2 separate regions of the Homo sapiens genome follow, and region 1 is linked to region 2. Evidence: fine-mapped expression QTL. Tissue or cell type: ileum. Region 2 holds a variant in brackets; the other region holds the start of a gene. All regions are shown on one strand. Distances are from middle to middle.

What was found. PIP is the estimated chance that this variant, and not a neighbour inherited with it, causes the effect.
Region 1: it holds the start of ARSL, and the variant in region 2 is fine-mapped to the expression of ARSL in ileum (GTEx, PIP above 0.99).

Annotation. Positions count from the first base shown.
Region 1 is chrX:2,960,045-2,968,153 of GRCh38, forward strand. It overlaps ARSL (arylsulfatase L), which reads right to left and starts at 4,297. Exons shown (of 11, transcript NM_000047.3): 1 at 4,180-4,297; 2 at 334-376. The coding sequence starts at 356. RefSeq lists enhancers at 482-1,305, 1,306-2,131, 3,782-4,605, 5,936-5,995.
Region 2 is chrX:3,793,113-3,801,221 of GRCh38, forward strand. No RefSeq gene overlaps it. Among named protein-coding and RNA genes, the nearest start is that of TRI-GAT1-1, 41 kb to the right of the region's middle. The variant G/A (reference allele first, on the strand shown) is at 4,326.

The sequences.
Region 1 (8,109 bases), 830 kb before region 2:
GGATCACGAGGTCAGGAGATCGAGACCATCCTGGCTAACACGGTGAAACCCCGTCTCTACTAAAAATACAAAAAATTAGCCGGGCGTGGTGGCAGGCGCCTGTAGTCCCAGCTACTCGGGAGGCTGAGGCAGGAGAATGGTGTGAACCCGGGAGGCGGAGCTTGCAGTGAGCCGAGATCGCGCCACTGCACTCCAGCCTGGGCGACAGAGTGAGACTCCGTCTCAAAAAAAAAAAAAAAAAAAAAAAAAAGAAGAGAAAGAAGGGAAGGAAGGAAGAGAAAGAAAGAAAGAAAGAAAGGAGACTACTAATGAGTGCATATAATTGTATCTTACCAAGAATGGTGCAGATGTAACATGTTGTCTCTCTCTCTACTTCCTGTAAGACATAAAGATGTCCACAATCACATTGACAGCAGAAATTGACCTGATTATAAATAAAACAGTAAGTAAGTAATTAGGGGAACTTTGATTCCCGTTCATGATATCAATAGCAAAAATATCTTAAAACAATGATCAAAATCTATAAAGGAATGCTCTTCCCGAGTGAAAAGGCTTCAAAAATGTTTAATACTATGTTAAGAATGTAAAACGTGTTTCAATACACAGCCAGATGGTCTTCAGAGAAAGAGGAAGAAAGTGGTCATAGGGTCTCCATCCCCTTTATCAGCTTTCATAGCCCATGAGTGATCACAAAGTGATGAGAGAATCCCAGTGTCCGGAAGCAGATTATTTTGTCTTCTGCTTCCCGAGCCCAGGGCAGGGGTGATTCCTAATGTCCAGAAATGCAGAGAGAGAGTCCTGATTTGGAAGGGGGAAGCGGGGAAAGATCAAAGCTTGGATGATACACAAAAGAATCTGAGTAGAGGGTATGAAGATCAGAAATACAATGAGAGGCTGCGCGTGGTGGCTCATGCCTGGAATCCCAGCACTTTGGGAGGCGGAAGTGGGAGGATTTGCTTGAGCCCAGGAGGTCCAGACTTGAAAACAGAACTGGGAGTGTCAGTGTGAAGGAAAAAGGCCTAGAGGACTCTGCAGGCACTGAGTGCTGCATGAAGGAGAGACGCATTCGCCTTCATTGCTAGGGGTAGGTGCTGCCGGGAGAGGGGGCGACCATTGCCCACACTTGGAAATGTTCTGTCCACAGAGGGAAACGGGCGACCCCCAAAGCACAGAGGGGCGGCCCCTCAGTCTCGCCGAGAAGTGAGGGAGAGCCCAGGGTGTAGAGCAGGAAAGGAATGAGATGGAAGATAACAATTAGAGTTGCAGGCAGCAAGAGGTCACCTTCAGGGTACTGCAGTGGTCTGACCCCATGTGGCTTGTGCATGGGACTGAGGACGAAGCTCTGATTTTTCTTTTTATCTTGCCCAAATTCCTATCTAAGGGGTCTGGAGAGTCATGCCCTACAAACCAAAAATTCTCATCAGAAGGGTTTCATTTAACTATATATTGTGACTTACTTTCCAATCTGACTCTGGCATAACATGAGACCAATAAGAAAATCAAAATATTTTACCCAAAAACATGTTTCTTTGCCATATCTTGAAATGGCCCTGCAAAGCTGTCCTTTGTGGGGAAAAATTTGCATCTGTAAAGATGTAAAGAATCTCTATTCACATAGATATTCACATCTTTTTCTACCGGACCCTTCCAATCCTGAAAAGATTGACTAAGACTCTAGCACCTTTTAAAAGTCTGAATAGGAAACAATTGTCATCTATTGTCTCTAAGGGCAGCCGCTACAAGACTTCAAAATAACCTTGGTCTCCACAATCTTTTCTCTTAACCTGAAGATTTCTTTTCTAGGGATCCCAGGGTTTTTTTTTTTTTTTTTTAATCTTTCTTTTTTATTTTTTTGAGACGGAGTCTTGCTCTGTTGCCCAGGCTGGAGTGCAATGGCGCGATCTTGGCTCACTGCAAGCTCCGCCTCCCGGGTTCAAGTGATTCTCCTGCCTCAGCCTCCTAGGATCCCAGGTCTTTAGATGAACTCAACCAATTGTCAACCAGGAAATGTTTAAATCTATGTATAAGCTGGAAGCCCCCTGACTTTGAGTTGTTCCACCTTTCTGGACCAAACCAATGTGTATCTTAAATGTATTTGATTGACACCTCATGCCTCCCTAAAATGTATAAAACAAGCTGCACCCTGACCACCTTGGGCACACGTTCTTGGGTCCTCCTGAGGGCTGTGTCATGGGCCATGGTCACTCTTATTTGGCTCAGAATAAATCTCTTCAAATATTCTACAGAGTTCGCTTCTTTTCGTTGACAGGACATGGGCATGCATAGAAGATAAAGAGACAGGAGCATGCAGATGTGTTGGGTTTCTGCCTCTGAGTAACCAGGGGAGTGACCTGGCCACTTTTAGAAGGGCCGAGCGGCCAGTGAGTGAGGACACACTGGAGCCAGCAGGCACTGAGAGCCTAGAAGTGGCCGTGGTGTCTGTCCAGGTGAAACCTGACCAAGGATAGACACAGCTGGTGTGGGAGCGGGGAGGGCAGAGAGGAGGGGTGGGCAAGGTCCGCAGGGCTGCGAAACCCCAGGGTGTGAGTGGGAGAGAAGCGATTGGTTGAGGGATTTCCCCTCAACGCCTTTTCGGGGATGCTGGGAGGGGTGTTTGCTCCTAGCAGGATTCAGGCACAAAACCAGTCTTCTGAGAAAGACAATGAGCTTTGTGAAAGGAAAATAAATCTCAAGGCCCGCAAGTCAATAAGCTAAAGGGAAAAGTCAAGCGGGGAACTGCTTAGGGCCTCTGCCTCCCATTCTAGTCAAAGTCCCCCCTTTGCTCACTGAGATAGATGCGTATCTGATTGCCTCCTTTGGAAAGGCTCATCAGAAACTCAAAAGAAGGCAACTGTTCCTCTCTCACCTATCTGTGACCTGGAAGCCCCCTCCCTGCTTACAGTCTTCCTGCCTTTGCTTCAAGTTTTCCGGCCTTTCCAGACCGAATCAATGCACTTCTTACATTATTGATGGATGTCTAACACTGAATTGCTACATCTCCAATAATTTTCTGTCTGTCGAAGAGAAAAAGACCTTAGATATCATTTGTGCTTTGTTTAGAACACAGAAGGAAGGGATAAGGTGTACGCCGTGCTCGTGAGGTTTTTTTGTTTATTTGTTCGTTTGTTTTACCCTAGAGAGCACACACAATTCTCATATTCTAAAAGTAATAGCAAAAGACGCAATTACGTTTCACCAACCTAATAGCATCTTCACCGGGAAAGAGATTGATTTAAAATTGTACATGGAGAGAAAACCAAAATGAGCATTTTAATACCCTCAGCATTGCTTTCTGACCTACAATGACATGCTGCCAATGGTCAGAAAACGGAATAAAAGCAAAATACTGTACAAATGTAATGAGAAAACCCCAAACCACCACAAACTAGGGGAAGATGGTTTTTGCAGCAATCCTGCCCAGCAGTGGTTTATCTCTGGGTGTGGAGATTTAGGAAAAGTGCTCTTTTTCTAATTTTTCTTTTCTTTTCCTTTTTTTTTTTTTTTTTTTTTTTTTGAGATAGGGTCTGGCTGTTTCACCCAGGCTGGAGAGCAATGGTGCGACCATAGTTCACTGCAGCCTCAAATTCTTGGGCTCAAGCGATCCTCCTACCTCAGCCTCCCAAGTAGCTGAAACTACAGGCACATGCCACTATGCCTGGCTATTGATTTTTTTTTTTTTAAGTAGAGGTGGGGTTTCCTCTTTTGCTCAGGCTGGTCTCAAACTCCTGGGCTCAAGCAATCCACCCGCCTCGACCTCCCAAAGTGCTGGGATTACAGACGTGAGCCACCGTGCCCGACCTAATTTTTCTTTCTCCCGCAATGTTATGTATTTATAAGTAAAAATATGAATATTTTTTCTTGGAGAAAAACGTTAAATAAATAAAGAGATGGTGATAACAGCCTTGAATGAGTTTAATTTTGGAAACTGTGACATTGAGGTGACCCAGAGCATGGGGCCTGCCCAAGGCCTCTCCTGCAGATTAGAAAACAGATCCCCCTTCTCCAGGAAAGAGCTGCATTCCTAGGCCTGTAAGTCACGGGTACGTTTCTGCTTTATCAAAACAAACTGGGCAATTATTCAGAGACAGAAAAGGGAACGGGGAGCTCTTTGTTCACCACGCTATTCATGCCTGGTCACGGAGCCCAAATCCAGCACAAATGAACATTCACAGGACTCACCTCTGCTCCTGGGCTCCTTCCTGAATCCCCGATCAAGAAGAGGAAGGTTCTCTCCCAAAGGAAGCAAGCGTGAAGGCAGAGAGCACTTGCACAAGGCTTTGAGCTGGGAATGATTAACTTCGAGTTTGTTTTTCCCAAGTCAGAAGATCAGAGAGAGTTAGGACAGACAGAGCAGACTCCCCCCACATCGCAGCATGGGGGAATCTCAAAGCCACGCCCACGTCTACCAAACCAGTGGTCAGTTTCCTTAGGTTTTTATTTTGTTTTATTTTTTGTAGAGACGGGGTTTTGCCATGTGGCCTAGGCTGGTCTCAAAGTCCTGAGCTCCAGTGATCTGCCCTCCTTGGCCTCCCGAAGTGCTGGGATTACAGATGTGAGTCACCGTATTCTGCCAGTGTCCTTAGGTTTTTAAGTGATTGCCTGTGCTGTTACACAGGGTGCTGGCTATAATATGATCATATCCAACCTGGCATGGTGGCTCATGCCTGTAATCCCAGCGCTTTGGGAGGACGAGGCAGGAAGATTGCTTGAGGCCAGGAGTTTCAGAGCAGCCTGGGCAGCAAAGTGAGATGCTGTCTCTTCAAAAATAAAAAATATTAGGCTGGGCAGTGTGGCTTATGCCCATAATCCTAGCACTTGGGGAGGTTGAGGCAGGAAGATCGCTTGAGCCCAGGACTTCGAGACCAGCCCGGGCATCATAGCAAGACCCTGTCTCTATAAATAATAAAACAATTAGCCAGGCATGGTGGCATGTGTCTCTACTGCCAGCTACTCAGGAGGCTGAGGTGGAAAGATTGTTTGAGCCTGGGAGGTTGAAGCTGCAGTTTCACTCCAGCCTGAGTGACAGAGCAAGACCCTGCCTCAAAAAAAAATGTTTTAAAGAAGTTATTTGTTGAGTGGTAAATGAAGTAAATAAGAAATAATAAAGATAAGATAAAAATAAAAAAGAAAACATTTCTTAAAGTAAATAAACAAACAAACAAAAGAAGTAAAAAGGCCAGGCGCAGTGGCTCATGCCTGTAATTCCAGCACTTTGGGAGGACGAGGTGGGCCGATCACTTGAACCCAAGAGCTCGAGACTAGCCTGGCCAACATGGTGAAACCCTGTCTCTGCTAAAAATAGAAAAATTAGCCAGGCATGGTGTCACATGCCTGTAATCCCAGCTACTCGGGAGGCTGAGGCAAGAAAATTGCTTGAACCCCGGAGTCGGAGGTTACAGTGAGGCAAGATCGCAGCATTGTACTCCAGCCTCAGCAACGGAGAGAGACTCTGTCTCAAAAATTATAGTAATAATAATAATAAACATAAGATAAAAAGAAAAAAAATAAGCAAAAAAAAAAGTAAAAAAAGGATTATTTTCAAGCAATGCTTGGTTTAAAAACATAGAAAAGACGGGCTGGGCACGGTGGCTCACGCCTGTAATCCCAGCGCTTTGGGAGGCTGAGGTGGGCTGATCACCTGAGGTCAGGTGTTTGAGACTAGCCTGGCCAACATGGCAAAACCCCGTCTGTACTAAAAATACAAAAATTAGCTGGATGTGGTGGCGTGCACCTGTAATCCCAGCTACTTGGGAGGCTGAGATAGGAGAATCGCTTGAACCCGGGAGACGGAGCTTGCAGTGAGCCGAGACTGTGCCGCTGCACTCCAGCCTGGGCGGCAGAGTGAGACTCCGTCTCAAAAAAGAAAAGACAAGACAAGACCAAGAGGGCAGGAAGCAGTTTCTGAGGCACTGCATGATCATTGCTGGGAAGTTACTCTGTAGAATGGAACCCTACGCAATGGTCCCTATTATTCAACCATCCTTGACCTACAAGGACGGGGTTTCATAGAGTTCCACCTGCTGTCTCTTCGCAACTTCATATGCAGCCACATGCTGGGTCTGTGAGAAGTCACATAGCCTACCTGATCTCACTTCCTCCTTATGTGGGGGTGGAAACCACCCTACTTCTGGGATGAGGAGCTGACACGCTGGCACACTCCAGCCTGACTCATTTTTACAAGTGGACGGTTTTGGTGGCATGTCTCAAAACGAGTATTAGGAGGGGTGTCAGAAATGTTTTCTTTTCCTGCCACAGGTGTGTGCCCTAATGGTAATTGCTTTCACTTTGTGATTTTTGGCAACAAATCTTAAGTCATTTCCTCGTAGGGGGCCTAAAGGAATATTTTCACCTATATTTTAATTTATATATTCATAATTATTATATATAATATAGTATAACTTTTGTACATCATACATAGTATAAATGTATCACATAAAATATGTAAATAAGGCTGGGTGTGGTGGCTCACGCCTATAATCCCAGCACTTAGGGAGGCCGAGGTGGGAGGATTGCTTGAGCCCAGGAGTTCAAGTTAAGTCTGAGCAACAAAGTGAGAGCCTATCTCTAGAAAAAAAAAACAAAACAATAAAATATATAAATATAATATATAAATATATAATAAAGCATAATTTTTCTTTATTAAAATATGCATGCTTTTCTTTACAAAAATAATATATACTTTAAAATATATATGTACATATATGTATAGATACATAAAACATGTACATATACGTACACATCTACATATAAATACATGTTATAATATGCACGTATAAATATAAACATATAACATATAAACATGTACCTATAGACATCTACATACATGTTTATGTGTTCATATATGTATGCTTATATGTATATAATGTATACATGTACATGCATGTATATATACATACATATATGTATACATAACATATATACCTATAAAACATGTACGTATATACATGTAACGTTAATATATGTACTTTTTAAAGTAAAAATGTTTATGTGTGTATGTATAGTACATATATACATATAAAACAAGTACATATATGCATATAACATATATATGTACATGATTTTTCAAGGAAAAAGCATATTATGGGCTGCTTCTGACTTGCCTGGGGAACATGACTGGTTGTGTTTGTTTTATCGGGCTGGTTATATTGGTGTCTAAATATAGGACCCTCAAACATGTTTGAACAGTCATATGACGTACGGTTAGATATCAAGTCTGTGGCCTACCTCTGAACTGATGTATTTATGTATTTAGTGACACAATAAAAGCAGATTTTTCTTTTCCAAAGAACTCTGCACTTTAACCCTTGGAATGTTAAACATTTTGGTCCAGATTTAATTTTTACTACTGAATAAAACTTTCTACTTTTTTATTCTAAAGACACAAGGTATCTTTAGAAAGAGACAAGAGGCTGGGCGCGGTGGCTCACACTTGTAATCCCAGCTGGCACACTCTGGCCTTTGGGAGGCCGAGATGGGAAGATCACTTGAGGCCAGGAGTTTGAGACCAGCCTGGACAACACGGCAAGATCCTGTCTGAATTTAAAATAAAACAAAATAATAAAATATAGAATACAGTAAAATATAATACAATGCAATAGAAATAAAGATAAAAGAAGCAGACGAGGAAACACCCATGCAAGACTGACAATATAGCCTTTGATTCTCTTCCGGGGAGAAGGAATCCCAGCCCTCCTTTCCCGCCCTGAGCTTCAGCCCCGGGCTGCGAGCCTGTGTTCAACGCTTCGCCTGGGCCCTGTTCCCAAACCCAGTTTCGCTTTTCACCTCCGGTGTCTCTTCGATGTTCAGTGCACGTGCCTTCAGCATCTCTAAGATAAGAATCTAGTGTGGATGCAATGTCTCCCATTTGGTGCATCTTCCCTCGTTGCTTTTTTTTTACGCATTACGTTTGGAAATCTCCCATGTAAAATCTGTACTTGAGATTTTCACTGATGATTATTATTATTTTTTGAAAGCAAATTACTTTTAAAACATTGACAGGGACTTGTTTGAAAAGACGCAGTTTAGCATAAAAGAATATCCCCTGGAGCGTCTCTGCACGTGCAAAAGCCGGCCTGTAAGAAGAAGCCCCAGGAAGGCCAGTTACCTGAC
Region 2 (8,109 bases):
GCTGTCTATGGAGGTGTCTCCAAGTTCGGGTAGGGGGGCCTGGCTCTCAGGTCAGGAGGACTCTGGACTAAGTCTTGAATGTTTCCAGGTGCACCCCATACAAAGGGTCTGTCTCAGGACTCCTACAGCTGAGGGAATTTACAAATTCTTCTTCCCATCTTGGTCTGCTCTGTCTATCCCCCTCACCTGGATGTGTTCCTATACCCATACCCGGTGGCTGTGGTCCAATTTTATTCTAAAAGTTTTCACTAGGAACACATGCTCCAACCCTCATCCAAGGCTAGAATCTTCCCAGCAGTTTCCCAGGGCACCTGCTCTGAGATTTTACCTCTTGGGGAGAGAAAGGATGAGATTCTAGAGTGTGTGTTTTATTTATTTAATTTTTTTTCTAAAGTGAATTGGAAAACAAAAGAATGAACCTCCTCAAACTTCAGTATGGCATGGAGTTGGACTATGACAAGAGAAGCCAGTGGAAGTATAGAGACATCTTGGACTTAAGAAATGCTGTGTACCTATGGTTTGACAGAGAGTAGTGGATTCCCTGACATTAGCCTGTGTGACCTGAAATAAAGCTGCAGGTGTCCCATGGCTGAGTAGGATGCGGGACGTCTTAGTGGGGGCCACTGAAGGAAATTCTTAGGTGACAGAGAGTCAGATAGTGGCAGATCAGAAGATTTGGATAGAACCAGGAAACAGACACGTTAAAAAAAATTGCAGTAAGAATATCTAACATGAGATTTATCCTCTCAAGTTTTTAAGTATGCAATACAGTATTATTATTACTTGTTAACTCTTTAAAACATTTGAATAGTTTTTGGGGAACAGGTGGTGTTTGGTTACACGTATAAGTTCTTTAGTGGTGATTTCTGAGATTTTGGTGCACCGTCATCTGAGCAGTATACACTGTACCCAGTGTGTCCCCTTTGATCCCCCACCCCCCTCCCACCCTTCCCCCTGAGTCCCAGAGTCCATTATGCCATTCCTATGCCTTTGCATCCTCATAGCTTAGCTTCTGCTTATAAGTGAGAGCATACGATGTTTGGTTTTCCATCCCTGAATGACTTCACTTAGAATAATGGTCTCCAATTCCATCCAGCTTGCTGCAATTGCCATTATTTCATTCCTTTTTATGGCTGAGTAGTACAGAATACAGTATTATTAACTACAGGCGCAGTGTTGTAGACAGCAGATCAGAACTTATTCGTCTTGTATAACTGAAGCTTTATACCCACAGAACAACTCCCTACTGCCCCTCCTCGGAGCACCTGGCAACCACCATTCATCCTCTGCTTCTATGAGTTTCATGAGTTTATACTCTGCATATAAGTGAGACATGGCAGTATTTGTCTTTCTGTGCCTGGCAGATTCTGCTTAGCATAATGTCCTCCAGGTTCATCTGTGTTGTTGCCAATGATTGGTTGCCTTTCTTTCTTAAAGCTGAATAGGATTCCACTGTATATATGCATGACATTTTCTTTACGCATTCATCCATCCACGGACACTTAGATGGTTTCCATGCCCAGGCTATAGTGAATGATGCTGCAGTGAACATGGGGGTGCAGATGTCTATTTGAGATCTTGATTTTATTTCATTTGGACAAATACGAGTAGGCTTGCTGGGTCACAGTAGATTTATTTTTAATTTTTTGAGGAACAGAAAATGGGCATTTTTTAAAACCACATCTGGAAGAGGGGAGGAGCCACAGAGTTCATTTCCAACACCTTCCTGTATGTTCTTTTCCGGTAGTTGTGCATAGTGTATCATACATAAGTTAGCTGCTTTGCAAACAGTGTGTAGTTCAATCTTCCCTTACCTTTGGAAACAACCTGGTCTCAAAAAGCTTATCTGTGTTGTCTCTGAAATAACCTTTGGGTGCAGTCTGTACAGTTAAACCATGTGAATTCAGTAACTTGCAGCTAATGCTTTTGCTATCCTTATAAAATGAGGAGACAGACGCTTGATCCTGACCTAGCTCTTGATATGGTTTGGCTCTGTGTTCTCACCCAAATCTCCTGTTGAATTGTAATTCCGAATGGTGGGAGGTGATTGGATCATGGGGGCGGATTTCCTCCTTGATGTTCTTGTAGTGAGTGAGTTCTCACAAGATCTGGTTGTTTAAAAATGTGTGACACTTCCCCCTTTGTGCACTCTCGCTCTCTCCTGCTGGGCATGTGAAGATTGTGCCTGCTTCCCCTTCGCCTTCCACCATGATTGTAAGTTTTCTGAGGCCTCCCCACCCATGCCTCCTGTACAGCCTGTGAAGCTGTGAGCCAATTAAACCTCTTTTCTCCATAAATTACTCAGTTTCACGTATGTCTTCATAGCAGTGTGAGAATGGACGTATACAGCTCTATTGAGTCCAAGAGTCCCAACTTCAGGCATTCCTGTCTGGGGACAAACACTCACCATATTAGTCTGCTAGGTCCCACAGTCCTCAGAAATTTATTTTCTCACAGTTCTGCAGGCCGGAAGTCCAAGAACAGGATGCTGTTAAGATTGGGGTCTAGTGAGGACTCTTTTCCTGGCTGGCAGATGGCCACCTTCTCACTGTATCCTCACATGGCCTTTCCTTTGTCCTAAAGCAGAAAGGCGGTGGTGGAGATGGAAAGAGAGAGAAAGAGAGAGAATGAGGGAACTGTGGTTGTCCAGGGTTGGCAGAAGAAGGAATGGGGAATTGTTTAGTGGGTACAGAGTTTCAGTTATGCAAGACATATAAGCTCTGATCTACTGTACAGAATCATGCCTATAGTTAACAATACTCTATTATGTACTTAAGTATTTAAGAGGGTAAATCTCATATTAAGGGTTCTTATCACAATGAGAGAGAGAGAGAGAGATCTGTCTTCATCTTCTTATGAGGACACAAGTCCTATAGGATGAGGGCCCCACTCTTATGAGCTCATTGAGTCTTTATTATCTGCTGATAGACTCTATCTCCAAATACAGCCACATTAGGGTTAGGGTTTCCCCATATGAATTTTGAAGGGACATGGTTCAGTCTGTAACACCTACTCCAGCCTGGAGCAATGTGCTCTCTTTCCTTTGGCTGATGGTCTTGATGGAGTAGGAAGAACTTCATCGTCATCCTATACAGCACCTGCAGATGCTGGGACTTCTCTAGTGGGATGCAGCTTGTTTCCAAAGTAAGTAAGTGGAAGTCGGGGCACAGTGGCTCATGCCCATAACCTTAGCTCTCTGGGAGGCTGAGGGCAGAGGATTCCTTGAGCCCAGGAGTTTGAGACCAGTTTGGACAACATAGTGAGACCCTGTCTTTACCAAAAATTTGAAATTAGCCAGGTATGGTGGTGCATGCCTGTGGTCCCAGCTACTTGGGAGGCTGGGAGGTGGGAGGATTACTTGTGACTGGGTGTTTGAGGCTGCAGTGAGTTATGATCATGCCACTGCACTCCAGCCTGGGCAACAGACGGAGACCCTGCCCCCAATCCCGCCCCCACCAAAAAAAAGTAAGTGAAAACTGGCTGGGCACGGTGGCTCATGCCTGTAATCCCAGCACTTTGGGAGGCCGAGGCGGGCGGATCACGAGGTCAGGAGATCGAGACCATCCTGGCTAACACGGTGAAACCCCGTCTCTACTAAAAATCCAAAAAAATTAGCCGGGCGTGGTGATGGGCGCCTGTAGTCCCAGCTACTCGGGAAGCTGAGGCAGGTGAATGGCCTGAACCCGGGAGGCGGAGCTTGCAGTGAGCTGAGATAGCACCACTGCACTCCAGCCTGGGCAACAGAGCTAGACTTCGTCTTAAAAAAAAAAAAAAAAAAAAAGTAAGTGAAAACTTCAGGAATGTGCTGGGACAGGTTTGAAAACTCATGGTTTTCTCCCCTGGTCACCCAGCACTGGAAGCTCTATATGCTTGAGGTACTTTCAGGTGTTTCTGACCACATGATAAGTAGAATTATCTTTTCACACCATTGATTGTTACTTCTAGCTGGGATATAATTGGTGTGCCACTTACCTGCACTTTTTTCATGATGAGGCCAATGTTATTATCTTATAAATAAGTATGGATCTTAATTGACAAACTTTCTGCTAATTCTATATTACCCTTCCCTTCTACGTCCATCAGGTTTCTATGTTGTCTTCTAGGAAACCCACGAAAGATTGTAAAGTCAATAAGATTTAAACATCTTTCAAATTCCCAATGGCCAGACAGAAATATTTGTTTGCAAAAATTTCCCCAAAGAGGTGCACAGATAAATCTTTTAAGATGAAGCCATGCGAAAATATAAAGGAAGGGCTGGGCGCGGTGGCTCAGGCCTGTCATCCCAGCACTTTGAGAGGCCAAGGTGGGCGCATCACTTGAGGTCA[G/A]GAGCTTGAGACCAGCCTGGCCAACATGGTGAAACCCCATCTCTACTAAAAATACAAAAATTAGCCGGGTGTGGTGGCACATGCCTGTAATCCCATCTACTTGGGAGGCTGAAGCAGGAGAATTGCTTGAACCCAGGAGGCGGCGGTTGCAGTGAGCTGAGATTGCACCACTGCACTCCAGACTGGGAAACAGAGTGAGACTCTGTCTCAAAAAAGAAAAAAATATAAAGGAAGACTGGTATCTGTTTGTCTGTTGAGTGTTGGACAATGTGGGGATGGGGAGGACAGGATTGTCTCTGCTCTTAACTTTCTTTTTAAATTAAACTTTTTTTGGAGATGAGGTCTTGCTCTGTTGCCCAGGCTGGAGTGCAGTTGTGCAATCGTGGTTCACTGCAGCCTTGGCTGCCTGGGCTGAAGCGATCCTCCCAGCTTAGCCTCCTGAGTTCCTGGGACCACAGGTGTGCTCCACCATACCCACTTAGTTTTTTATTTTTTGTAAGGTTGGGGTCGTGCTGTGTTGCCCCACTTGTCTTGAGCCCCTGGGCTCTAGTGATCCTTTTACCTTGGCCTCCCAAAATGCTGGGATTACATGCATGAGCCACTGTGCCTGGCCCTGGCTCTTAACTTTTGGGGTAACTGAAGTGATGCCCACCGTAGGTTTTGAGACTTAGGAGAAGACTAATTTTTTCTCTATGGAGAGGAAATTTATAGAACATAAAACTCAACATTTTGTTATTTTTATTATTTATTTATTTTTGAGACAGAGTCTCACTCTGTTGCCCAGACTGGAGTGCAGTGGTGCAATCTCAGCTCACTGCAACCTCTGCCTCCTGGGTTCAAGCAATTCTCCTGCCTCAGCTTCCCAAGTACCTGGAATTACAGGCGCCCACCACCATGTCCGGCTAGTTTTTGTATTTTCAGTAGAGACGGGGTTTCACCACGTTGGTCAAGCTGGTCTCGAACTCCTGACCTCAGGTGATCCACCCACCTTGGACTCCCAAGGTGCTGGGATTACAGGCGAGAGCCGCTGCACCTGGCAAAATTCACCATTTTAAAGTGTACAGCTCAGTGAGATTTAGTATGTTCACAACCACGTCTCTATCTAGTTCCAGAACATTTTCATATTTCCAAAACGGGACCCTGTACCCACTAGCAGTCACTTCCCATTCCGCCTCCCCAGCCTCTAATGGCCATGTATTTTCCGTCTCTGTGGATTTGCCTATTTTGGACACTTTATATAAATGGCATCATATAGCACGTGGTCTTTTGTGTCTGACTCGTTTCGCTGAGTGTGCTGTTATTCAGGTGCACCCACACTGTAACCTGTTTCCGAGCCGCATTCCTCTCTAGGGTTGCATCATGTTCCCTTGTGTGGATGGACCACGTTGTGTTTTTCTTCATCCACTGATGGTCATTTGGGTTGATTCCACTTGAGATGTTTTTTAACCTACGACTCAGGACACCTGGACTAGATTATTCATGATTTCTTCCAGATCTGCGATCTTAGATTTAAATAAATAGCAGTGTGCCATTTGGGTCACAGATGTTAGTTCTGTGTGAAACAGATCTATAGATAGGAAGAAGAAGTTTAACGAAGAGAAGATACAGACGGGCTGTGAAAAGTACCTGGGAAGAAATTGAAACTGCAACAGGGAAATGATGATAAAGTTTTTGGTGTGCAATGGATTATAAAAGGCGCTATACAACGGAGAGAATGTGTCCTTATTGTGTTCAGAGGATGAGAAGGTACGCAGGTGTGAGTCTGGCCTTGAATCTTCAACCCACTACTTCATCATTATTTTATTAAAACAAAACTTCGATGCATTTCAAATCATTGTCTTTTCCACATTAGGTAAAATTACATGCTATTTTTCATTTGAAGTATTTTTGGTTTTTGGTGGAGTAATGCTCTTATGGGTCTTTCTAATTTTATTTATTTATTTATTTGTTTATTTATTTATTTATTTATTTATGACAGGGTCTCTCTGTGTCACCCAGGCTGGAGTGCAGTGGCACGGTCTCAAGTAGCTGGGATGAAAAGCACACACCACCATGTCCAGCTAATTTTTTATTTTTATTTTTACTTTTTGAGATAGAGTCTCACTCTGTTGCCCAGGCTGGAGTACAGTGCTGCAATCTTGGCTCACTGCAACCTCCACTTCTCGGGGTCAAGAGATTCTCCTCGTTCAGCCACCTGAGTAGCTGGGATTATAGGCATGTACCACCAAGTTAGGCTAATTTTTGTATTTTTCATAGAGACAGGGTTTTACCATGTTAGCCAGGTTGGTCTCGAACTCCTGGCTTCAAGTGATCTGCCCACCTCGGCCTCCCAGAGTGCTGGAATTACAGGCATGAGCCACTGTGCCTGGCCAATTTTTTAAAAATTTAAGTTAAATTAAAATTATTTAATTTTTAATTTTTTACATGTTTATTTTAGACTCAGGGCTACATGTGCAGGTTTCTGACCTGGGTATATTGCATGATGCTGAGGTTTGGGCTCCTAATGGACCTGTCACCCAGGTAGTGAGCCTAGTACCTGGTAAGTACCTTTCCATCCGCTGTCCCCCTTCCTTCCTCTCCCGTCTAGCAGTCCCCAGAGTCTATTGTTCCCATCTTTATGTCCATGGGTACTCAATGTTTAGCTCCCACTTGTAAATGAGAAGATGTGCTATTTGACTTTCTGTTCCTGCCTTAATTTCCTTAGGATGATGGCCTCCAGCTCCATCCATGTTACTGCAAAGGACATGATTTTGTTCTTTTTATGGCTGTGTAGTATTCCTTGGTGTAGAGGTACCATATTTTCTTTATCCAGTCTGCCATGGATGGGCACCTGGATTGATTCCATGTCTTTGCTATTGTGAATAGTGCTGTGATGAACATATGTGTCCGTGTGTGTTTTTGGTAGAATGATTTATTTTCCTTTGGGTAGAAACTATTTTTTTAACAACTTTATTGAGATATAGCTTACATATGATATCATTTACCCACTTAATGCATGCAATTCAGTGTTTCGTAGTATATTCAGAGTTGTGCAACCATCACCACTATCAGTTTTAGAGCATTTGATTTTTTTTTTTTTTTTTTTTTTTTTTTGAGACAGAGTCTCGCTCTGTTGCCAGGCTGGACCGCAGTGGCGTGATATCAGCTCACTGCAGTCTCTGCCTCCAGGGTTCCAGCGATTCTCCTGCCTCAGTCTCCTGGGTAGCTGAGATTAAGGCACGCGTCACCACACCCAGCTAATTTTTGTATTTTTAGTAGAGACAGTATTTCACCATGTTGCCCAGGCTGGTCTCGAACTCCCGATCTCAGGTGATCACCTGCCTAGGCCTCCCGAAGTGCTGGGATTACAGGCGTGAGCCACCGCTCCCAGCCGAGCATTTGATTTCTTTGGTAAGACACTTTGTACCCTTTAGCTATAACCACCTTAACACCCCCTGCCCCCATCCCTAAGCAACCACAAATCTACTTTCCATCTTTATAGACTTCCTTGTTTTGAATTATCCTTTACATGGGATCATACAGAACACAGCGTTTTATGACTGGCTTCCATCACTTAGCAAATTGCCTTCAAGGTTCACTCATGTGGTGGCCTGTGTCAGAGCTTCAGTCCTTTTTAGGGCTGAAGAATATTCCATGATATGGATGGACCACATTTAGTTTACACATTCATTTGCTGACAGGCCATTTGAGGTTGTTACCACCTTTAGGCTACCATGAATAATGCTGCTGTGAATGTGTGTTTGAGAGTTTACGTGAGCAGACGTGAGCACATGTTTTCATTTCT